Regions from separate parts of the Homo sapiens genome. Here all the other regions are linked to region 1. The links come from fine-mapping of genetic effects on plasma protein levels. A gene starts in region 1. Each other region holds a variant in brackets. All regions are shown on one strand. Distances are from middle to middle.

Region 1 (5,138 bases):
AGGGCACCATCCCAGCCCGCCCTTCGGTCCGCGGGGTGCCCCCCGCCACTCCCAAAGAGCCACGGATGCCTCTCATGCAGCCAGTAGTGATAAGCAAGCCTGGGAACCATGAGCTCTCCTTGGATGTCGGAAAATAGCGACAGAGGGACACCCAGTCGCCCGGGAAGACCAGAGCCAGAGCGGGGAAGGAGCGAGGTGATAAAAGTCCGGCAAGAAGAGAAAAACAGAAAGGGTAAGAGAGAAAAAGAATAAAAGCGAGAGAGGGGAATGGAAAGAAGGAAACAGCGAGCAAACAGGAGCAGACAACATCTAGGACACAAGAGAGAAAGAGGGAGAACAAGGCAAATAGACGAAATAGGGGGGAAAGCGGGGGGAGGGAAGAATGCGGGCGCCGAAAGGAGGAAGAGAGCGCTGAAAGGAGACTTCGGAACCCGGGTGCAGAGTAGAAGAAAGCAGGGATCCAGAGACGCTGCACGGAGAGCGCGGCTCTTTAGGGCTCTCCAGTGCGGAGACTGAGTACGATGCCCCGTCCCAGCGGCCCCGTTCCGGCCGCTCGGCCGCCTCCCCCGCACGCTCTGCCAACCATCACGCAGGCCACCCTGCGGACAGACAGACGGTCAGTCCGGGGCCGGAGCGGAAAGCCTTTCTGTGGCCGCCACAGCGCGGCGAACGTGCGCTACTGGGCGCCCAGCACCTGCCCAGCCGGGGTGCAAACGCCCGGGCGTCAGGGTGCGCGCTAGGTCCCCGGCTTGGGCCAGCCGCGCCTCCCAGCCCTCCGCCCGCCTAGGCCCGGGTCCCGCTCGACTACCGGCGCGCACTCACCTGGACGGTCTCAGCCTGGCGTCGCGCTTGCCGTCCACCACGGAGGGCACACAGCTGGTGAGCTCGGTCCAGTCGGCGTGCAACCCGCAGCTCCAGCCCGTGGAGAACCTGGAGAAGAGCCAGGTTTCCCGCTTACCCGGCCGGTGGCAAGTGCATTTCTTCTGACCCACGCGGCACTCGCACGGCTGCTCCAGCTGGATGTTACGCACCAAGTGGCGGCCGAAAGTGGTGCCCCCGGTCTTCTGGATGTGCAGGAACACGATCAGGTCATCGCCCTTGATGTCGAAGTCTACCTTGCGCAGGAGGTCGCCGCGGGTGAAATTGTAGCGGGGCACGAACCTGGCGGAGCTCTCATCCTCCGAGCGGTACGGGTCCGGCACCGGGGAGCTGAACGCCTGCAGGCGGAGGAGCTGGCATTCTGTGCCGGGGCACACGTATTGGAGGACGATCACGGCAAATAGGAAGAGCATCACCAAAGCTAGCAGCAGCTTGTTGGATTTCTCATCCATGTTCCCGACGCTGGGGGAAACCCAAGCTCGTTACGTCAATCCCGCAGCTCAGCCCGCGCTCGTCGTGCCCCCGCACCGCCCCCTTCCCCTGGAGCCGCTGCTGCGCCCCTCTCCCCCTCCCCTCCGCACCGAGTACTCCACGGCGGCGGCGGCTGCGGCGGCGGCTCCCTTCCCCGCTTCCTTCCTTCCCGGCAGGCTCAGCGCTGTGGCTTCTGCGGCACACACACACCCCCACCCCGACTCCTTCCCGCGGGCCGTTCGCCCCCTCCCCCCGCCAGAGCTCTCCGGAGCTCCCCGGAGCCCCTCCACGGGGTTTAGCCCCAGTGGGACCCCTCCGGGCCCAGTCGCCCCACTCCTCAACTCACGCCCCCAGTCCGGGCCCCCGCGTGTCTCGCTCCACTCTCGGTGGCTCCCGCTCCCATCCCCATCCCGCTTCGTCCGCCGGACTCTCCGGGCTCTTCTGCCCCTATCCTCTTTGGAGCGCACACCTCTGTCCGGGTTTCTCCCCGCATGCCCCGAAGCCCTCCTTTTGCCGGCGCCCGCGCCCGCTTGCCCACCCGGTAGGCGGCCTCGAGGGAGCTCGGAGCCGGGGGCTCAGAGTTACCCTGGGGGAATGAGCCGGCCGGCAGCCCGACTTGCTATCGGAGACGCTGCGCTGCCGGTGCCCGCGGAACAGTAGCGACGGAGCCGCGGCGTGGGCAAATGCGCGCCGCACCCCTCCGGAGACCCTAGCCGGGCCACCAATGGCCAGCTGGAACTTTACGCCCTTCTCTACCCCCCGCGGCTGCCTTCCCTCCCCGTACAGCACCTTCGCGCCCTGGCCTGGGAGCGCGAACCCCGCTTTCACCTAGAACGTACCTGGCCATGGGGCCGAAAATCTTGGAGAAGATCGCACCGAGCACGTGCTTCAGCGAGTGGCCCAGGGCGGCCAGGCCCCGAGTGAGCAGGGCCCGGCAGAGGGAGCCCAGGTCCCAGCGTCGCCTGAGGACGTGCATCCGCCTGCGGCGGCCCCGGGACAGCAGCGCGAAAAGCGGGGCGCACGCGGCTCCCGCCAGGGAAGAAGACGCCTTTCGGGGCTTGTCCAGGAGCGGCCGGGTGTGGAATCCGTGAGACACACCCCTAGGAGGGCCCGCGCGAACTGAGGCGGCGACCGACCCGGGCCGGCTCGCTGCCAATTCGGCCTCTACTCTGGAATGCCGGCGGGGACAGGTGGTGCGGACGGGCGCTCCTCGCTCCGGTTGCCGCGGCGGCTCGAACTCCCGGACTGCACACGCAGGCAGTGCCATTCCCCCCTTCAGGCAACTCAGGGTACTAAGGATCACGAGCGAGCTTGAATTTATATAATAATGCCTCACGCCTAAGAGCTCGAGCCACTTCACAAGCAGAGAACCTGGGTTTTCTCTTTTCTTGGAGTACGGAGGTCACTCCGCTTAGCGCATCACTCCACTTTGGCTCGTAATTTCAACCTCTCCTAAAATAGCAAAGGCGCAAATTGGAGCTTTTCCGTCTCTCTTTGCCAATTTCCATTCTCCAGCGGAAGCGGGGGCATTTTCTGAAAAGGTAAGTCAGCATGATAAAAAGACAGCAGGACCAAAAAGCATTACAGAATGAGAATCTGACCTTTTTTAGAGCACAGACTGTCTTCTTGCTGAATCCTGTGTACCAAACCCTGTGCCTGCAGGAGGGCTTGACTCATAAAAGGTTTGTTGAATGAATGGATACATAACTAAAAACTCCATCAGAGTGAGACCGTCTAATCCAAGGTAATGTGACACATGAGGAAACTGAGGCCCAGAGAGGGGTAGGGATGTGCCCAAGGTCACACAGCAGAGCCCCAGGGTTTGAACCCAAGAAACCCAGCACCATCCACCTATTTCCTGATACTAACACCACCTTCTCTAATAAATAGGCACAGATCTTCCTCAAGCTCCAGTGTCCGAAAGGCTCTTTTCTGCTGCTGGACCAGGAATGCAGGGTTTAACAGGGAAAGAATGGATGTTCCTTCAGGAAAAGGACCCTGGGAACTCAGGAGTCAGTCTGTCCCCATCTGATTGATCAAAGGGGCTTGCTGTACATCAGGACACTGGTGTTTCCGTGACTGAGTGTGCAACTCCCTCCAGTCCCACTGCTACAGAAGGGGCACCGGTTGGCAGCAGTGTTTCTGAGCAGTGCTGTTGGCACTGGGGCCACTGAGTGGGAGAATGCAGACCACGAGCTGAGTCCTGGGGTGGGGGCATGTCCCTCCTGGAGACAGGCTCTCCCAGTATCTCCCTTGCTGAGCTCTGCTCCATCCGTTTCCTGTTCTATCTATGCCATGAAGCGGCAAGCCTAAGAATAGTCCAGAAGTCCTGGGAAATCTGTCCCTGGGCAGCACTGGGATAATCACTTGCCCCTCCTGAGCCTCAGTTTTCTTGTCTGTAAGATAGGACCAATTATGTCCCCTGTTTTGACCAACTGAGTCACCGTGGGGATGAAATGTAGAAACCTTTAGGCCACTCCAAATGTGAGGCTGTGTTTACCTGTTGCTCTAAGCTCAATGTGCCAACTGCGTCACAGGCCAAATAAGGAACAGGCCGTTCTCAGGCAATTCTGTGGCTGTGCACCCTGTCTTTACCACCCCCTAGAATTCCCAGCCCTGGCTAGACTTCTACGTGCCCCCAAACCTACTGGGGACCGTGAGGGACCCTTTGTCCAGCTGCAGACATAAGGGATAGTGGATTTTTTGGGAATCCTGAATTTCTAGCACTCCAGGCATCTCCTGTCCTGAGGTTCCAGGAACACTCTGAAAACCCAATGAACTTGTGCGAAGAAGCCAGATGCAGTAACTTACAAGGTTGACCTCTCAGCTTCCCCAAGAGCTCCCCTGGTGCCCAGGCTGGTAGTCCTAGGCCTGCTCCCCCTGAGGGCAGCTTAGGGTGTGAGCCAGGGTAGTGGGAAGCTATGGGGGTGGCCCCGGAGCTCTGCTTGCCAGCTGCCCCTGCCTTCTGCTTGGCCACTCACTGCAGTCAACCTCTTTAGCCTACCCAATAGGTGGCTCTCCTCATGGTGTCGCATAAAGATTCCCTGCCATTACACCACCTTTGTATGTAATGGCATTCATTGGGTCCCTAGGAAAATATTTCTGAAACAGGTGGGTCACAAATTCAAGCCCTCAGCAGCTAAACTACGGAGTTTCTACTGTAAGAGGGATTAGTGGCATTGGAACACAAGAAAGTGCCTTGGGTGGAGGGAAGGGGGAGGTGGTAAACAGTACGGGGGGAAAAGTCAGGTTTTACTCATTTGAGTTGTGAAAAGGAAGGTGTCCACACACCTGCACACACACTCACAGTCCAACCTTCAGAGAAAGGGCCAGTGAGGTTGGTAGTTGCAGAGCAAGAGGGACAAGGTGGGGCTGTAAAGTTCAGTTTCTGAGATATAATATGTCACTAGGATTTTTGCATTTAGAAGCCCTTCCTCCACCCCCTCATGCTGTGAGGAACAAAGAAATGAATCTCTCATACAGGAATTCATATATCAGGGCTCCTGGAAGTATAAGAAAACAGTCTTTGTGGGGAGCAGGGAGTCCCACAAACCTCAGAAGATCCCTCCAGGATTGAAGAGGCTTTTTGCTGAGAAGCAGGGAATTTTTCCTACGTGTGTCCCAAGAGCCATGTTCTCCCGAGGCCAAGGCTGGGCCTTGGCTGCATGTTGAAGAGGCTTCTTGTAATCTCGGCTGGTCTCTGCTCCCAGGAGCCAGTTCCTCTCAGGCAGTGAATGACAAAGGCTCAAATGCTCTAGATTTTGGCCTTTTGGGGAAAGACTGGGGGT
Region 2 (5,138 bases), 260 kb before region 1:
AAAAACTGAGAAAGCAATCACAAACATTCAGCAATTTAACGTGTTTTAACATAACCAATTGTTTGAAAATAAGACTCGTGCCCTCATCCCACAAACACTGAGTGCCTACTGGTGCCAGGCACTGTGGAGGGTACTAGACAGACAAAAATGAATGAGACAACAGCACCAGACTCGAGCGGTGCACAGCCTGGTAAGGGATACAGATGATTCAAAAACAATGTGGCTCCTCTTCTACCACTTGACTGCAGCTGCCCTCTAAAAAGTCATCAGTGACTTCCTGCTGGCCAAGACCAGTGACCTCTTTTTAAGAATTGGACTCCTTGGCAATCCTATTCCTATGACATTTCAAGAAAGACTGGAATGAACATAAGGACCCAGCCCTGCAGATATCTAGGGGAAGAGCATTCCAGGTAGAAAGAGGAGCAAATACAAAGGCCCTGAGGCAGCAAGAGGCCTGGTATATTTAAGGTAAAGCAAGGAGACCAGTGTGATTAGAGAAAAATGGGCCTGAGGCAGGGTAATAAAATATAAAGTCAGAGATGGAGCTTGCAGGAACCTTGCAGGGTTGGTTGTTGAAGGAGATGGAGAGCCACTGCTGGGCTGGGAAAAGAGGAATGACAACATCTCAATTAACATTTTAAAAGGGTTATCACTGTGGTTAGACAAGACTGTAGGGGTCCAATAAAGGAAGCAGGGGAGCCAGCTAGTAGGCTTTTACAGAAGCCCATGTAAGAAATGATGGCGGCTTGGACTAGGATGACAGAGCTGATGGTGGCGAGAGGCGGTCAAATTCCAGATATATTATGCAGGTGAAGTAGACAGAATTTGCTAGTGGATTAGACATGGCCTGGGGGAGAAAAAGATATGCAAAAGATACCTTGAAGATTTTCCCCTGAGCAACTGGTAAGGACAGAGATGCCACTCACTGAGGCGGGGAAGATTGGGAGAGGACCACGTTCTGGGGAAATGTCAGGAGTTTGTCTGGGGGCAGGTGAAGTTTGAGATCCCAACTAAACCTCCCAGTAGAGACAGGAGTGGTGTGAGAGTTGCAGGAGTCTGGACCCCAGGGACGAGGTGGCGCTGGAGATATATGTGGAAGCCAAGCCTCTCTTGTGTCTTTCAGCATCCTCTCTCGCTAGCTACAATGACTCAACCAAACCCATCCGCCACTTGGTATAAGAGCAAGCTTGACTGCAGCCAGCCTGGCTTCTTCATCCTCACACATCATGCCCACCCTAGCCTGTGTTCTCAGGGCTCACTTGTCCTGGAAGAGTAAGGCTTCCAGTGATGGCAAAAACCTCTTAAGAAAGTACTATGGTAATGGGTGCAATACAGATTGTTATCCTAATGCACTATCTTTCTCTAAGGAAACACAATTTTGATGGAGTTGCTTTTCATAGATTCTTATAAAATGTACTAGCATCAAAATGTGAAGCTCTAGATGTATTCAAAATGGTGTCCCAGATACCAAAGGAGTTTCTTGAGAAACAAATGCTTAATCAGATTTTCCCAAAGGGGTACCTACTATCAGCTCATGTGCCCTCAGATTAAACTATGGGGGTATTATTTTGGGGAAGGCTGATAAATTATAAGCAGTCAAAGTAAGAAAAATCACACTATATTACATCTTGCAAAAACCAATGGAAGTGAAATAAACCAGATACTAAAATCCATCTGTAAGTCCTCATCATTTTGCTGCACTCACTTGAGTGCATTGTTAGCACCTTACTAAAGTCATTCGCTGGCTGGGAGCTCGACAAGTACTAATTATTCTCTTCATTTCCATGCCCCTGCAAACAAGACTCACAAAAGTTTAAAAGTGGTTACCTTTGAAAGCCTGGTGAACACAGCGTGCTTAAAATTATCCATAGAACATTACAACCAGACAGATATCCAGACAGAAAGTTGGACAAGAATATGCATGGTAGGTTATGTGAGTTTTTTCATCCTCAAGTGTTAAGAGTTAGAAGAGTAGGCTGAGTTCTTCCATTTGGGCATCAGAGGTCATTTGCAGATCCTGACATAACTAATCCTCTGAGTCGGTGGAGGAAAGGGTCGGCCAAGCCAGTCAGAAAAGGTCTGAATGCTGGCCTCCAGGAAGCTGGGCAAGTGCTAGGTAAAAGGAAATCTGCCAAGTTTTCACCATGGCAGTATCAAAAGCGATGAGACGATTTTGTGGATCTGGCTGCTGCTCTCTGTGATTCACAGTTCACTGGTCTACCATGATTTGGGCTTTGTTCTATTTTTGTGAAACTTGTGTATGCATGTATGTGGCCAGTCTGTCTGTCTCCATGCCTGCCCGTGTATATCTTTACCTACCCACCTGCCTGCCTTTTCATTTACCTTGCAGCTAAGAGTAGAACCAGGGAGTTGGTAAGTTCTATAGAGTCATATTCTAGTCCATCCCTTCATCTTACACATGAAGAAACCAAGGCCCAGAGAGCAGTGACCTGACCAAGGTCTCTCAGTAAATTTCATGACAGAGTTGGAAGGTAATCAATAGGGTGGCTGATTTTCAGTTCTTGGTCTCTGTCCACCTCTGGCTCAGCCTCTTGCTACTTTCTCTCTCTGTGTCTCTTTATCTCTGCATTTCTATTCCTGTGCCTGTCTCTGTGTCTCTCACAAACACATGAGCTTTGGGAAATTAACCTTGGTTTGGCAGATGTTCTACTGTTTCACTACTTTCTTACAAATGAATACATCCTTATAAATATTTAGTAGACTCCCATTATTTTACTGCAGTACCTCAGCTCCAAACTTTGGTCATGTTTCGGTAATATTCCCTTTT[GC/G]AAAAAGGTCACACTAAGCGCCTTTATTATGACACAGATGTTGCTTTCCCTGTGGGATTATTAGGAAATATCTCAAGGCTAGTTTCTTAAATTAATTTTTATGATACCTCTTCTTCCCACAAGTTGACCCTTACCTTAGAGTATTTAAAATACTGCACATATTTCCCCATGGCAAATCAAGAATTCACTTTTAATTTGATCCACACCTTCCAATGTAACTTGTTGATAGTAAAAAAGAAAGGAAGAACATTGCTTGCATTTTCATCAAATAACACTGTAATCTATTACATGTCATATACAAAATACCTTTTAACTTGAAAAGTCACAAAAAGAAAATACTCTCTAGGGGATTTTCCCAATCCTGTAGAATGTGACTTGCCACTTTCTGTTTTCTTTGGATTTATATGAGAAGGGAAATGAGCATATCAGGTGTGTTGGATATTCTTTCCAGTTTGTTGTCTGTTTTAGACTATAAGCTCCCAGAAGACAGGGCTACATTAATCCTCTGTTCAGTGTCTATTTAGTGTCTTATGCAAACAGTCAATGAATCTGTGCTTTTGGCTCAGATTTGCTACTAGAAATGGAGCTGGTGTTGCAAAAAGAAAAAAAGAGAAAGAAAAATTAAGGCCGGCTCTTCACAACAGGTCACATGAGAGTTATTCTGAATCGGTCTGGTTCTACATTCAAGAAGAAACCACAGAATATTACCTATAAAAGCTACTTATTTTGAAACTAGACCTCACCATTATACCTGCCTTTAAAACTGGCAGATAGATTGAAAGTGTATGCATGTGAATCATGCCAAGAGTCCAAAGATATTTATATGAGGTGAAGAAATGAACATACCTGCCCCATCACTAGCTTTAGCAAACCATAGAATAGTTCCCTTAGTAGTTTCTGACCCAACGACTCAACCTAGAGCAGACTCCTTGAAGTACCAAGTATCTACGTTTATACATATTAGTATGAACCATATTCTACCACAACGGTTAGTTCTATCTCCCAAATTCAATGTGAGCTCCATAAAGACAGGATCTCTCTCTAATTCACCTCTGTACTCCCAGTGCCTGGCAGAGTAGTTGCTCAAGTAAACACCCATGGAGAATATCAATGCTTCTCAAGACAGGGAGCTAACGTCACACTAAAGATGTAATTAAATGGCTATCATTGGCTTCTTCTCATTTTACAAAACCATCTCTATTAGATATCCTTTAATGGGGACATGTCTAGAACGATCACTAAACGGACATGGTAGATATCACTTAAGTTAGTACAAGAAGGAGCACACAAGGGGTCCTCAATTCTCCTATCATGGCTTCCTTTGTCTGTTCATCTTCATCTTGACATTCTAGCTTATAACATTCTTGCCTTTCCTAGACTCAAATTGATTGTATCTCATCGAAGTGGTGTATTAGCATTCTACAGATTTATTTGATACAAAATAGCATAAATGAAACTCCACTTTATTTGGACTAATGAAATGAGAGAACTAAATTATAATTGTGACAGAATCAAATTTCACATGTTACTGCTGTACTACATAGTTTGGAATGTCTCTGAATGTTTATTTTATGTACCAATATAACAGCTAAAGTACATTTGCCAATGATGACAAGGGTTGACCAGAATTGAGGAGAGGCAGAGAACTGGAGACAGTGCTGTTGGTAGCTATAGATGCCTAAATGCTTGCCAAAGGATAACACCCATTGCTGGAGCCCTTTCACTGCCTTTAAAAACATGGGCGTGCTTATCACTAGTTAGTGTAGTATATATTTTTACTGACACTCAAAAATATTACAGTAATTACATATATACCCTCATTTGGGGGCAAAACTTTTATCAATCAATTTGATCTTCCATTATATATTTATAAGACCTGGCCCCATATCATTTTTGATGTTTCCAAAAATCAAATCCATCCACAAAGGATAAGTTTGCCCCACAATGAGGTTATTCCAAAGGCTACATATCCCCTATCTAGCACTCCACTTAATTCTTTCATAACATTCATCACAATATGGACACATTTTGTTGACTTGCTTCCTCCAAATTATCTATATCTGCCACCAGAATATAAGCTCCCTGAGAGAAGGAACTATATTTGTCTTATTCAATTGTCATATCTCTAGCATTAAGAATCGTGCTGAATTATGGTAGGTGCTCAATAAGTGTATCTGTAATGACTGAATTAATTAATGTAGTAGTACATTTTCAATCACATTACTGGAAAATCACCAAGTTAAGAGGCCCCCTCCAGTTTCTCCAAATCTATTGAAGGACACTACCTGTTTTCCCTCAGCCCCAGAATGACCCAGAGCCAATTGACCTATGATTGTAGGCCATGAAAAT
Region 3 (3,091 bases), 870 kb before region 1:
TCTGATTTTCCACTTGGCTCCCTGTAGGTTTCACACCTGCTGAAACCTAATGATTGGCAACCTTGCGAGGAATAGACAGGGCCACTGCTCACAAACAGAGCCTTCTCTAAGAAGCAAATATTGCTTTGCACACTCCCCTCACCTTAAATACCTTTTTTACTCACTCTTCTCTGCCAGAAACATTTTTATGAAGTAAATTAGATTAAAATCATGTCAAAGGGCATCTTTTCAAGGTGAGAAGTTATAAATGACCAACAGGAAACAGGAGGGAGGAGAAGATTTCCTTATAGATGGAAGGGTTTA[T/C]AAGATGATTACATGTACATAAGTCTGTTGTTTTCTTGAGACAAGGTGTCACTCTGTTGCCCAGGCTGAAGTGCAGTGGCATGATCATCACTCACTATAACCTCAAACTCCTGGGCTCAAGCAGTCTTCCTGACTCAGCCTCCTGAATAGCTAGAACTACAGGCATGTGCCACCATACCCGCTTAATTTCTTTGTAGTTTTTTTTGTTGAGATGGGATCTTGCTATGTTGCCCAGGTTGGTCTCAAACTCCTGAACTCAAGTGATCCTTCCACCTCAACCTCTTAAAGCACTGGGATTATGAACGCAAGCCACTACACTCAGTCCATGAGTCTTTTTAGTGTAACAGTTAGAAACACTTTTTCCTCTATAGGTTGTCTTGTACAATGCTCTATATTGCTCATCTAGCATATTCTAATCTTGGCTTTCCAGACCTAAAGTTCGAGTTTTCCCCATCTCCTGACACTATATGTACCCCTCACATGGCATGTTTGCAGCCCTGTTTTCAGCAGCCCCATCAACCCACTGCACTGACCCCACTTCTCTCATTCCTTTCCAGGTTCCTGCATGTAGCCTCTGGGGCTCTCCATGAGCTTCACACTAAGTCCAGTTTCTTGAACTGCTCAATGAACACTTTTCTATAAGGTCAAGATGCAGAGAATAAAATCCAAACTGCTGGATCTTCAGTAGGTCAAAAATTAGTTGATACACACTTTTTATTTTCTTTATGGTCATAAGAAAATTCCTTTCTAGACTAAGTGGCTCATGCCTGGTAACGTCAGCACTTTGGGAGGCCAGAGTAAGAGGATCATTTGAGGCCAGGAGTTTGAGACCAGCCTGGGCAACATAGTGAGACCTTGTCTCTACAAAATATGTTTTAAAAATTAGCGAAGTGTGGTGGCACATGCCTGTAGTCCTAGCTACTCAAAAGGCTGAGGCGGTAGGATCACTTGAGCCCAGGACGTTGAGGCTGCTCTGAGCTACATGTCACCACTCCACTTCAGTGTGGGCAACAGTGTGACCCTATCTCTAGAATAAAAAAAGAAGATCATTTCTAGCACCTTTGTCTCACCCTTTACTATGCAACCTTGCCCAAAAACTGTTTATTTTGCTTACGTGTATACCTGACTCCCACATCCTGCTTGTTTTTGGCATATACTAGGTGTTCAATAATTTTTGCTTAAGGAAAGTAATTGAAGATACTTTATAAAATGGAACAGATAACATCATATGAATGTATTCTTAGTCCTAGATCTGGTCACTCCCATTTGACTTATCAAATCCCTAAAAAGCAGTTTCCAGGGAGACTTGCCTTTCAGCCGAGCTGCCCCATTTTCCTATTACTTTGTTAACTCTAAACTGCCAATCAGATTTCTTAGTGTTTTGCCTTTAGTAAAAAATGATTAAAACTCTGGTTGATTTCTTCAAAGGCAAAAGAAAAGACACACCATCACTCAGGGCCAGCCGGCTTTTACAATTTACATTCAAACGATTTGCAGAAACAACCAAAAAAATTCCCAGTGAACAGAAAGTAAACGAATTTATTAGAAAGCTACTTACCAAGATATTGGCATGAAGTTTGATGAGAAAATGCTTTCTCTTAAAACTCAACTTGCGGATTTTAGCCCAGTTAAAAGTATTGATCTTTGTATTTCCCTACAATGAAAAATGTGGCAGATTTCAGAATGTATTAACAAGAGTTGGCTTGTAAGACAGTGCAAACCTGATAGAAAATGCACTTAATGAGAGGGACCGCCCTTGACCCATCTCTTGCACAGATTGATCCTGCTGCACTGGGTAGGAGCTGTGGTCAAAGAAGGCATTTCAGGTGGGATACAAGGATGCTCTGGAATGCAAGCAAGAAGGGGTATGCCTAGGGAAGTTTTCTGGCCAGCACAGGGAGATCACAAGAGGAAAGGATTACTACAATAGCTTTTCTAATCTCGCCCCTTTCCCATGTTTCCCGATTCATCTGCTAAAAACAATGTCCTCTTTCTCCTGACACCCCAATAGCTCAAACACCTTCAATAGCTCCTCACTGCCCACATCACATCATGGCCATATCTTGCTGCCTCATCTATATTGAATATATAACCTTTGTTCCCACTAATTCCAAAACACCCTTTCATCTAACTCTATACCTCTCTCCTGCAGTCTCCTCATTTTCCTTGCCCACAATGCCTTCCACATAGTCAAGCCTTCTTGCCAGCTCTGACAGACCCTTCTCTAGGCTATTCTGTTTAATTACTGCAGCCTACACCCATTTCCAACTCCTCTAAACTCCCTTGGCTTTCCTGGTCGGTCCAACCAGCTTTGCTTTTTTGCTTATTTGTTGTTTGTTCAACAGGTAATCTATTCGCGTGGTCTGAAAATCAGAGGTATACAAAAAGATATATATAGAAAGAAGTCTCACTCCCACCACTGTCACCCCTATTTCTGTCCCCATCTATCCATTCCCTGCAGTTAACTATGTTTATTAGTTTGTCATGTATACTTTTCATGCAACTACAAGTAAATATGATTGACCATTTCCCTTTCTGGCTGGTGATAATACTGAGGGGTGAGATCACCTTGGGAAAGGACACCCAAGTTTGAGCCAAGATAACCACCCCTCACTAAAGCTGAAGGGCTTGAAAGGAAAGAGATTTTACCCGTAACACCAGTACTCCCATGTGAGCAACAGCCAGGTGAATCTGCATCCCTTCACCATCACTGGCGGGGTGAGGCCTGATGCCATACATATCCAGCTTCCTTGCTATGTCCAGTAGCAGAATGTCAGATTCAGCTGGG
Region 4 (5,138 bases), 910 kb before region 1:
GCCTATTATGACTTTGGTTCTTGCTTGAGGATTTTTAAGATAAGGAAAGTTATTAAATTTATTCTCGTTCTTTCCATATTTCATTTTTCTTTGGAAAAATGTGATATGTGGTTAAGTGACAATAGAATCAAAGAAATGTCTCATTCTTCTTTACTCCATTGTAAAATGAACTGTCTTACAAACATGTAAAGAACAGCATTCTTCACATCCCAGAATGTATCCTGCTTGCTTTCTTGTTCTTTTCCTCTGATCTGAGCTGGGGTAAAAAGAGGAATGCAAGTTAGCAGGCAGAGGAAGCTCTTTTCCTATCCTCTCGTGAGTAGGAGGAATTAAGATGAAGGAATATTATCAATTATTCTTTTGTTCTTAAAGATGAATTAGACTCAAAATTATTAGTCAGGAGAAACTCCTCAAACTGCTATGTTATTCATACGCTATGTCAAAATCTTTTGTAATAATTTTAATGAAGTTATCCTTTACTAAAATATCTCATTCTAAGTATTTTTGCTAATGAGATGCATTTAAAAATAAGAATAATAAAATAAAGAGAAGATGAAAAAGTACCTATACAATTAATTTTATTTCTGCCTTATGAACACATTTTTCTTGCTGCTATGCACAAAATTGCTGAAAGTTTAAACAGTTGCCTTAATAGTATGAAATAATACTGTGTGAGACCTTTGACTTTATGCTTCACCATTGAGACCAGGGTTGGAGTGCTGTTGCCTCATTCGTCTCAAAACTGCCGTTTAAGTAGGTGGGTAAAGATAAGGAGTCAACTGTGAGTTGATAAAATGCTGTCTGATGACCACAAGGAAGCCCAGGGTTGATGTAATGACATATCCCTACTACATTTCATTTATCTCATTTCATGCATGTAAAATCTGGGAATTTGACTGCTACTTTATGTTGCAAAGGCAAGTTATAATAAACTTTGAGAAAGATGTAAAAATGTAAGTATACCATAAAAATAGGTAAGCTAATAACATTTTCATTGTACACTTAGTTAAAATATTTTGAGCCCTTATAAATATGGAAATACAAATTTAAATGACTGTCCACATAAAGAAATTTAACCTGAAGCCAAATTCTTCATGTTTAATTTGAAACATATACAGACATACTTAATTTTTATCTTAGTTCTTATTCTGTCATATGCAAAATACAGTGGAGCTAAGTATTTCACTTCAGAAATATAAATCACAGGGATCTCTAAAGAATTCCATAAAATTTTATCTGATAACTTGTAGTATGAACCTGAAGTTGTGCAAAGTAAAAAATTACTCTGCTAACATCACATTTTTCAAAGGTTGAGAAAATTTTGTGGGGAGTTTATTTTATCCTTCTGATTATTAAAGTAATCTGAGCATGCATGGTCATTTGAACAATTCTAGGCCTGCATAAACCTAGCACAAAATTAACAATTGATGCTAAATGTTGTTTTTTATTCCTGGACAATTTCATCAATTTGTGGGGGGTTTTAAATGAACAGAACTGGAAACCTTAGTATTAAGGGTTACTGAAGTATACAACAAATCACTGATAAAGCTGGAATTGGAGCTGTTGGATTCTTGACATTGGATCCTATGGGAATCATGATATGGAATGGCATCACTACTTTATCTCCTACACTCTAGAGGCTAGCCCATTCCAGCCTAGTTATTGACATGGAAAAAAAAATAGTCTGAGAAATGCCAGAAAGTCAAGATTACTTATGAATCATTTTTCTTTAAAATTGTAATATGAAATATTTGGTAGTTGTGCATACATATGAGGGCCAATCAATTGCATAGTGGTTCAACAATTATTAAAAAATTGCATCATTTTCACCAACATCTTTCCCACCAAACCCCAACCACCACAGTCTGGTTACCATTCTACTCTAGTTCTATGAGGTCAATTTTTTATATTCCACATGTGAGTGAGATAATGCAGTATTTGTCTTTCTGTGCCTAGCTTTCTTCACTTAGCATACTGTCTTGCAGGATCATCCATGTTGTTGCAAATGATTGGTAAAAGGATACAAAATTTTAGTTAGGAGGAATAGGTTCAGAAGATATACTACACAACATGGTAATATAATTAATAATAATACATTGTATTCTTGAAAAATACTAACAGAGTGGATGTTAAGTGTTCTCACCACAAAGATAAGAAATATAGCATGTAATGCATGTTAATTAGCTAGATTTAGTCATTTCATGATGTATATACTGTATATTTCAAAACATCTTATTGTATATGATAAATACATACAATTTTGTCAGTTTAAAAAATTAATAAAAAT[T/G]ATATCAGTTTAAATATAGAAAAGTCCTATTTTAAATTTTTTCAATTCTTTTAAGTTTACATTTTTCAAATTCTTTAAGCATTGGGATAGTACAGAGTAGACATTAGACAATTGTGTGATCTCTTTACGATGGAAAATAATTTTGCTTTTATAGCAAAAGGGGTTATAGTTTAAATTACAAATAAATCCTAGCTGTAGTGAAGGAACCTTAGACATAACAGTCAGGAGATCTGCGTTCAGATTTAAGCTTTGCCACTAGTTAACTACCTTTTATCTTTGAACAATTTGTAACCTCTCCAGGGTATAGTTTCCTCCCTGTAAAAATATATTTTGGACAAGTTTGCTAAGTTCCTGTTCATCTCAAAGATTATCTAATTCTTTTAATTTCAAGAGTCTGTATCTCTTCTTAATTTCTCTAAGACTTACCATTTTAACATAAATGGCCTTAAATTACATAGCTTCCATTTAGTGATCCTAGCCTAGGACAAAACGGGTATACAATAAATGCTTGTTGCTGATGGTGATGATAAAGAGTTGGATTGAATGACCTATATACATTTCCTTCCATTTCTAAAAGCCCGTGATTGAGAGAGCAGCCAATTGTATATGGATTATATCTGGCACTTAAAAAAGATAGTGTCCTGTTTTCTCGAACTCAGCACTGGTAAGAGTTATACGGCTGTTGACATTAAAATTCTGTTTTTTGTTTGTTTGTTTGTTTTGTTTTGTTTTGAGAAAGGCTCTCACTGTGTTGCCCAGGCTGGAGTGCAGTGGTGTGATCATGGCTCACTGTAGCCTCGCCCTTCTAGGCTCAGGTGGTCCTCCCACCTCAGTGTGCTGAGTAGCTGGGACTACAGGCACGTGCCACCATGCCTGGCTAATTTTTTGTATTTCTTTTTTAGTAGAGATAGGGTTTCACCCTGTTGCCCAGGCTTGTCTTGGACTCAGCTGAGCTCAAATGATCCACCTGTCTCAGCCTCCCAAAGTGCTGGGATTATAGGCATGAGCCAACTGCACCTGGCCTAAATCTCCTTTTTTTTAAAAAAATGATATCTTGATTAGGAAACATTCAGCAAACATTTTAGGCAATGTTCATAAGGGCAAGTGAAAAATCTTAACACAGGCAATCATAATAGAACAGTAATTTAATTTGAGGCTCATAAACCAACTAGAGAATGACTTTTATTTATATGCATTCTGCTTCTTAGATGACAGGAAACTGTATATACATGGAAGTAATCCAGAAAAACATTTCGTCTCTAGCCTGGGAGAACTGATTTGATCAATTTAAACAGGTAGCTAAATATCTCTAGTTTAGTACATTGTTAGGCTGAAGTTTTTAGTTGCTCTCTGTGATTGTCAGGGCACTTTGTATTCACTGCAAGTCACTCCTGGTGTTCCCACTTGAGGACTTCAAGGAAGTAAGAAATCTTCTTTTAAGCCTTGATATCATTAGCACATTATTTGCTCATTATTTCCTGTAACACTCCTCCTCATCAATGAGTCACTGATAGGCCTATATACAGGCCAGTCTTTGTAAAGTGCAAAAAGTTATTTTATAGCTACAGCATTCATAGTATGGGCTTTATTAATGTAGGAAGGCAGGTGCAAAACAATTCAACCTTACTCAGCTTGGTTCTTAGTTCTGGAAGATTCTTTTAGGATACGTGAGTTGAATCCTTCCAGGTCAAATCCTGTGAGAAATCTGCCTCCTCTTCCTTACATCTATTATGTTTTCACTCTCAGTCCCAGAGTCTTACTGGGGGTCTTAGTTAGGTAGTTCAAATTCAAAGAACTAGATTCTTTACCTTGGTTCTTTCCCACATTTTGCTCTCTAGGTCCCCATTCTGCGAGAACTCCAAGACTAATTCTAAATCCGTCTTCAATGTTCTTGTTTCTCCTGGCCACCAATTCCTAATGCCCCCCTCCACAAGTTGACCCATTTTCTACTAACTAGATCTAAAATTTTATCCTTCATCAATGTTGGCTGTTATCCTCAAAACTCTGTCATCAGTCACATCTTAACCTATTATAGGCCCTATCGACAATACATAGACTATATTGGGTATAAACAATGTTTAAGAATATGTATACAAAGTGTACGGGATATGTTGCTTGTGTTTTGACAAACATTATGTTTCTAATCTTGAGTCATCCCTCGGGATTCCAGGATACCTTCTTCTGCTGTGTATACCAAAATTGGTGCATACTCAAGTCATGCAGTCGACCCTGCGGAACCCACATATATGAAAAGTCAGCCTTCCCTATACATGGGTTTCACATTCTGGAAATATTGTATCTTTGATCTGTGTTTGGTTGAAAATAAATTCGTGTGTAAGTGAACCTATACAGTTAAAACCCATGTTGTTCAAGGGTCACCAGTGCTAATTTTAGAGACATATCCTTAGAAGAAGTATTGCAGACTTCATTTTTAAAAATATAGGTATGTATAGTAAATGCCAAAGTCCTCTTAGTTTTACTTTAATCTCCAACTTGTCCACTTTTAATGTACAGAATTAGATGAGACCCATATGCTTGCCTGGGAAAAATAAGGATAATGGGTTCCCTGTAATCAAGGATACAAATTTCACATCCATCTGCTTAGTGGTTCCCAAGTGCTGATGTCGAGACTAGTGTTCAAATGACTACACAGGAATCATTTGGGGTGCTTTTTCAGAAGTATTGGTTGCAAGGCCCCAGTCTCAGTAGGCTGAATCAGTAGTTTTGGGGTAAAGCCTAGGTATCCACATTTTAAAAGTGATATAGGTAGTTCTAATTTATAGCCAGGATTGGAGAGCACCTAGAGAACTTGTAAGAGTTCTTTCAGCTGTCTGTTTCTGTGGTTTAAGTA
Region 5 (5,138 bases), 170 kb after region 1:
GGTGGCTGGACTCCAAGAAGAAGCATTCCAAACAGAAAGGCAGAAACTGAAGATCACTCAAGGTTCAACCTTGGAAAATACACTGTCACTTCCACCACATTCTGCTGGTCAAAACAGGTCACAGGGCCAGTCCAAATTTACCTCTCAGTGGGAGGAATGGCAAAAGCACATTGCAAAAGAGCATGTGGGATGGGAGTTCATGCTGCAACCAGCTTTAGTAACATATTCCACCACAATCCTGAAATTTGCTTTTTACTTTCCCCTTTGCTGCTTTACTTCTCATTTTCTCCATATATTGGATTTTTAATCAGATCAGGTAGATGAACCAGATTAGAATATATTAAGTGCACAAGATGTTGTGCTCTTAGTTTGCAAACTATGTCAGTATAGATCAATCACGGGGAATGGAACCAGGCAATATCTATCTGAGGATTTTAAGGAGTTCAAGGGAGAAATTGTGGTGCTGTTTGTTAAAATGTATAGTCTGTGATTCTAGAAATTTATTCTGCAAAAAAGAGCCCAAATTTTCTAGTGTCTATGTGCGAGGCACCATTATAAATATTTTATATTATTAATCACCTTATTTAATTTTCACAGCATTTTGAGGTGTATTTTATTGTCTCCATTCTCTAGATGAGGAAATTGGGGTCCAGAAAATTAGATTAACTTGCCCAACTTATCACACCTAATAAACAGGTGGAGGCCGGGTGTGGTGGTGTGTGCCTGTGGTCCCAGCTACTCAGGAGGCTGTGGCCAGAGGATTGCTTAAGCTTGGGAGCTCAAGGCTGCAGTGAGCTATGATCACACCACTGCACTCTTGCCTGGGCAACACAGTGAGACCCTGTCTCATAAATAAATAAATAAGTGGACCTTCAAATTCAGTTATGTCCAACTCCAACTCCTTTGCCTGATGGGGCCAGAGGCGGTCCTCTAAGGTACAAGAACCAGGGTAGGGGTCCTGATGGCTGATGTCTAAGGGAAGTAAGGATTTACAGATCTACAGTAAAAGTTGGAAGGGAGGAGCAGCAGCTGGAATCATACAGTCTGCTCAAAATCAGGCTAGTTAGAAAAATTTGTAAAGGGCTACAATGAGCCAGAGATTAAATGTAACCTGCTTGTGAACAACAATATGGTTTGTTGGAGAAGAATTAAACAAGTTATTTTGTGAGATAACAGAGGATATGGATTCAATACATTTCTGTGTACCTACTATGAGAACTTATAACTGTCCAGAGGAATAGTCTGAAAGTGAGAAGTAACAAAACAAGAAGCTACCTACACTGAGTCCTATGACAGCTGAAGGCCCTTGCAGCCACTGCTCCAGGGCAGCTGGAGGGGTTGATATGAGAAGTTTGTTCAAAGTCCACATCCTTCAACAAAGTGGGGAGCAAAATTCCACTGAGCTACAAATGGAAAGCTATTGAGGTGTGATGGAAGGAGTCTTCACTTTTACATCAGGCACATTCTATTTGGAATCTTGATCTCAAACATACAACCGGTATGACCTTTGGGAACCCGTGTAACCTAGTTGAAGCTCAGTTTCCATATCAATAAATGGCGAATAATAGTATGTACTTTCCAGGGTAATTACGTGAAACAAGAAAAAAATCTGGCTGTAGGCAGTGGCTCATGCCTGTAATCCCAACACTTTGGGAGGCTGAGGCAGGAGTATTGCTTGAGCCCAGGAGATCAGTACCAGCCTGAGCAACATAGTATGACTCTGTCTCTACAAATTTTTTAATTAACTGGGCATGGTGGCATACACCTGTGGTCCGTGCTACTTGGGAAGCTGAGGCAGGAGGATCACTTGAGCCTAGGAGGTTGAGGCTGCAGTGAGCCATGACTGTGCTACCGCACTCCAGCCTGGGAGACAGAGCAAGAGCCTGTCTCAAAAACTGGAAATCTGTATAAGACCTAGCAGGAAGTGAACAAATATTTATTTTTTGTTTACATATACTTACTACATGCTGAGCACTATTCTAAGCACTTCACAAAATTTAACTCATTTAATCCTCATAACAACTTTCTAGGTATAAATACTAGGTGTAAATACTACTTACTAGGTATAAATGCTATTATTTTCATTGCAGAGATGAGAAAACTGAGACACAGAAAGGCTGAGTGACTTGCCCACGGTTGCACAGATAGTGAACAGGAGCACCGAGATTTGAACACAGACAGTCTAGCTTGAGAGTCTGTCTGCACTCTTAACCATTATATTACTTAAACATTATGTTAAGCTGCAATTTCTGAAGTCTCCGTCATTAAAACCTTCTAATGATTTATCCAAACAGAAGGATTTTGTATTTTATTTTCCCCCATTAAATTTGAACTTCTGCAAGCTATTTTGATGCAGGAGGCACTATTAGCTGGCAGCATGTTCAGAAACACTGCAGCAAGTTACCTTGTCTCCCAGGGCAAATTTTCCTAGGTACCATTGCTAAATAAATAGAGGTGGGGCCCTGGAGCCTCAGAGCCTGCCCCCTACCCACCCCACACTCCACGATGTTGCCTGGATGCATCTTCAGCCCACACATCCCATTTTGTGTCTGCAGGCTGGGTCAAGGAGGTTGACAGAGTTTTCATTCTTTACAAGGTTGTCATTAAGGACATACATTTTTATTTCTCTCCATTAAATTGTTGATTCCATTCTATAAAAGCTAAAATGTAGTCTCCAAGTGTGGGACAAAGTAGGCGGCTTGCCATGCATCTGACTTTCTATTTAATTTAGATAGAAAGGGGTTGAGAGATCACAGTGCATGATTTAGCCTTATACCTTTCCATGCACCAGAAACTACCACTTCATAGGAAAGTAATACAAAGCCAGAATGCACCTTGCTCCTTGATATAGGATTATGCCTAGTGGAGAAATAAAAGAATGACTTGCAGAGCAAGGTGTTAGGACTAGGCCAGTCCAGTTCAGGGCTA[A/G]TAAGGATTTACTTTGACTCAGTTTGTTCTGTCGGGGAGTTGATCATTTAATGAACAAGAAACTGTCACTCTTGGGTATGTTCTGCTTCACTGCCTTTCTCACCCAGTTCCCTTGCACCATCCAGAGCAGACTGACCCCTATCTACTTGTCTTTCTCCTTGGAAATTCCCAACATGGAGGGGGCATTGTTCAGCCAAGACAGATGAAGAAAGGACATAAGGGAGAGGGCACCTGCCTGTCATTGCCTGGGGCAGGAGAGGGAGGAGGGAGTCTTTCAATTTCCCGTTACAGCTTTTCAGTATTCTCCTTCCCACTGCTGGAAGTACTGAGCTTTGGTTCCACTAATACCCTTTCCATGCTCTGGGGAGATGCCAGGTTTGAGAAAGAGCTGCAATAACTGTCTGGTTTTCCTTTTCTGAATCTCATGGGGCCTAACCCTCAAATTTGAACCTTGAAGAAAAAAAAATCCTAAATATAACCAGTCAGCCCTCATAAACTAGTTTCCTTTCCTTCACTCCTTCCTCTGTTTGTGTCTATTAGAGAGATAGTACTGCATCGGGGTTACTGCATACACCTTGGGGAAGACTGATATTACTTAACTATCTGAATCTCAACTGCCTCATTCATATAATGCAGAAAAGAATAAAACCTACATCCCTAGTGTTTTTGTGAGAATTTGAAACATATAAAACATTTAGAAAAATATCCAGCACAAAGTAAGTGCTATGTAAGTGCTAGCTATTATTATGTCATGAAGAAGATAGGGATGGATGAAGATGAAAACAAACAGATGCTGTAGAATTTCAGAATTCTGAAGATGAAAGCTGATCTAGAGATCAGCTGGTTTATGTCACTCATTTTACAGATAAGGAAACCAAGGCCCAGACAGAGGAAATGCTGGATTCCCACATTAAAACTCTTTCTATAATGTTACATCTCAGCTAATTTTATGCCTAAGGTGGTCCAACTCTGGTTTATCTATTCTTCCAGTCAACACATAGCAAAGGATTGTCATAATGCACAACTCCAGGAAGTTGTGCAATATAGTGGCTCTATGTCTAGGTGGTGAAATACTGTGGCTGATGGACTCCAGGTTGGCCTTCATAATCCCTACTCCTGGTGTTCACACCCTTGTGTGATTCCTTCCCCTTGAGTGTTGGTAGGAGCTATGACTACTTCTAACTAATAGGAAACTGCAAAGGTAACAAAAAATACATATATGTGATTATATTACATAAGGTGCTAATGCCCAGTTGGGCATGCTGGCATATGCCTGCAGTCCCTGCTACTTGGGAGGCTGAGGCAGGAGGATTGCCTGAGGTCAGGAGTTCGAGACCGACCTGGGCAACATGGCAAAACCCCGTCTCGACTAAAAAATATACAAAAAGTAGCCAGGCGTGGTGGTGCACACCTGCAGTCCCAGCTACTCAGGAGGCTGAGGTGGGAGGATTGCTTGAGCCCAGGAGGTTGAGGCTGCAGTGAGCTGAGATTGCACCACTGTACTCCAGCCTGGGTGACAGAATGTGACTGTGTCAAAACAAAACAAAATAAACAAACAAGCAAAAACAAAGACTCTAATGCCCATCTAGCTAAGAGTGACACTTTCTTCCTTGCTGGCCTTGAAGAAGCAAGCTGTCACACGTAGAAGAAGCTAAAGTTGGCCTCCAACAATGACCAACAACAGACTGAGGCTCTCAATCTGGCAGCCTACAAGGAACTGAATCCTGTCAACAACTACATGAGCTTGGAAGCAGATCCTTTCTGTCAAACCTCAGAAAAGGCAACAGCCCCAGCTGATACCTTGACTGCCTTGAAGGTCTCTTTTAAGACCTTTAGCAGAGGGCCTGCTAAACTGTGCCCAGACTTCTGACCCACAGAAACTTCGAGATACTAGGTGAAGGGATTTAAGGAAGGGAGGTGGTATAGAACAGGGTTGTGGTATAGAAACATTTATCTTGGCTAATTGGAAGAAAAAAATCAGAGGGGATGAGACTGGTAACAGGGAAATCAATTAGGAAACTATTGTAGTGGTCCAGGAGAAGCCCGAGAGATAGCTGAGCTGGGGTAGTAGAAATAGAAATGGATGCCATAAATGATTAAGCAGATATATCATGTTCTTCTTGTTTAGAACAATAACAAACAAAAGCAAAACACCACGTGATAAACAGATCCTTTTGGTTACCTGTACATACCTTTATCAGATAATAAGG

Direction of the effects. Alleles are on the strand shown, and positions count from the first base shown. The strength of an association depends on the size of the effect and on how common the allele is.
For the plasma level of the protein whose gene starts at base 2,644 in region 1, allele GC in region 2 goes with a higher level than allele G (strong association).
For the plasma level of the protein whose gene starts at base 2,644 in region 1, allele T in region 3 goes with a higher level than allele C (moderate association).
With allele G in place of T in region 4, the plasma level of the protein whose gene starts at base 2,644 in region 1 is lower (moderate association).
For the plasma level of the protein whose gene starts at base 2,644 in region 1, A is the high allele of the variant in region 5 and G is the other (moderate association).

Evidence for each region. PIP is the chance, under the fine-mapping model, that this variant and not a neighbour inherited with it causes the effect. The UK Biobank Pharma Proteomics Project read protein levels with antibody pairs (Olink). The fine-mapping took linkage between variants from a reference panel, not from the people measured, so its PIPs are less certain.
Region 2: its variant is fine-mapped to the plasma level of the HS6ST2 protein (UK Biobank, PIP above 0.99).
Region 3: its variant is fine-mapped to the plasma level of the HS6ST2 protein (UK Biobank, PIP above 0.99).
Region 4: its variant is fine-mapped to the plasma level of the HS6ST2 protein (UK Biobank, PIP above 0.99).
Region 5: its variant is fine-mapped to the plasma level of the HS6ST2 protein (UK Biobank, PIP above 0.99).

Annotation. Positions count from the first base shown.
Region 1 is chrX:132,955,986-132,961,123 of GRCh38, forward strand. HS6ST2 (heparan sulfate 6-O-sulfotransferase 2) reads right to left here and starts at 2,644. Exons shown (of 5, transcript NM_001394073.1): 1 at 2,190-2,644; 2 at 823-1,341. The coding sequence starts at 2,617. It overlaps LOC124905219 (a long non-coding RNA gene), which reads left to right and starts at 1,450. Exons shown (of 2, transcript XR_007068337.1): 1 at 1,450-2,891. RefSeq lists an enhancer at 2,023-2,523.
Region 2 is chrX:132,693,978-132,699,115 of GRCh38, forward strand. All of the region lies in intron 3 of HS6ST2 (heparan sulfate 6-O-sulfotransferase 2), which reads right to left. Among named protein-coding and RNA genes, the nearest start is that of HS6ST2-AS1, 29 kb to the left of the region's middle. The variant GC/G (reference allele first, on the strand shown) is at 2,789.
Region 3 is chrX:132,082,629-132,085,719 of GRCh38, forward strand. FRMD7 (FERM domain containing 7) reads right to left here. Exons shown (of 12, transcript NM_194277.3): 7 at 2,953-3,091; 8 at 1,862-1,957. Among named protein-coding and RNA genes, the nearest start is that of FRMD7, 44 kb to the right of the region's middle. The variant T/C (reference allele first, on the strand shown) is at 304.
Region 4 is chrX:132,045,978-132,051,115 of GRCh38, forward strand. All of the region lies in intron 2 of STK26 (serine/threonine kinase 26), which reads left to right. Among named protein-coding and RNA genes, the nearest start is that of STK26, 25 kb to the left of the region's middle. The variant T/G (reference allele first, on the strand shown) is at 2,288.
Region 5 is chrX:133,127,345-133,132,482 of GRCh38, forward strand. No RefSeq gene overlaps it. Among named protein-coding and RNA genes, the nearest start is that of USP26, 33 kb to the left of the region's middle. The variant A/G (reference allele first, on the strand shown) is at 2,929.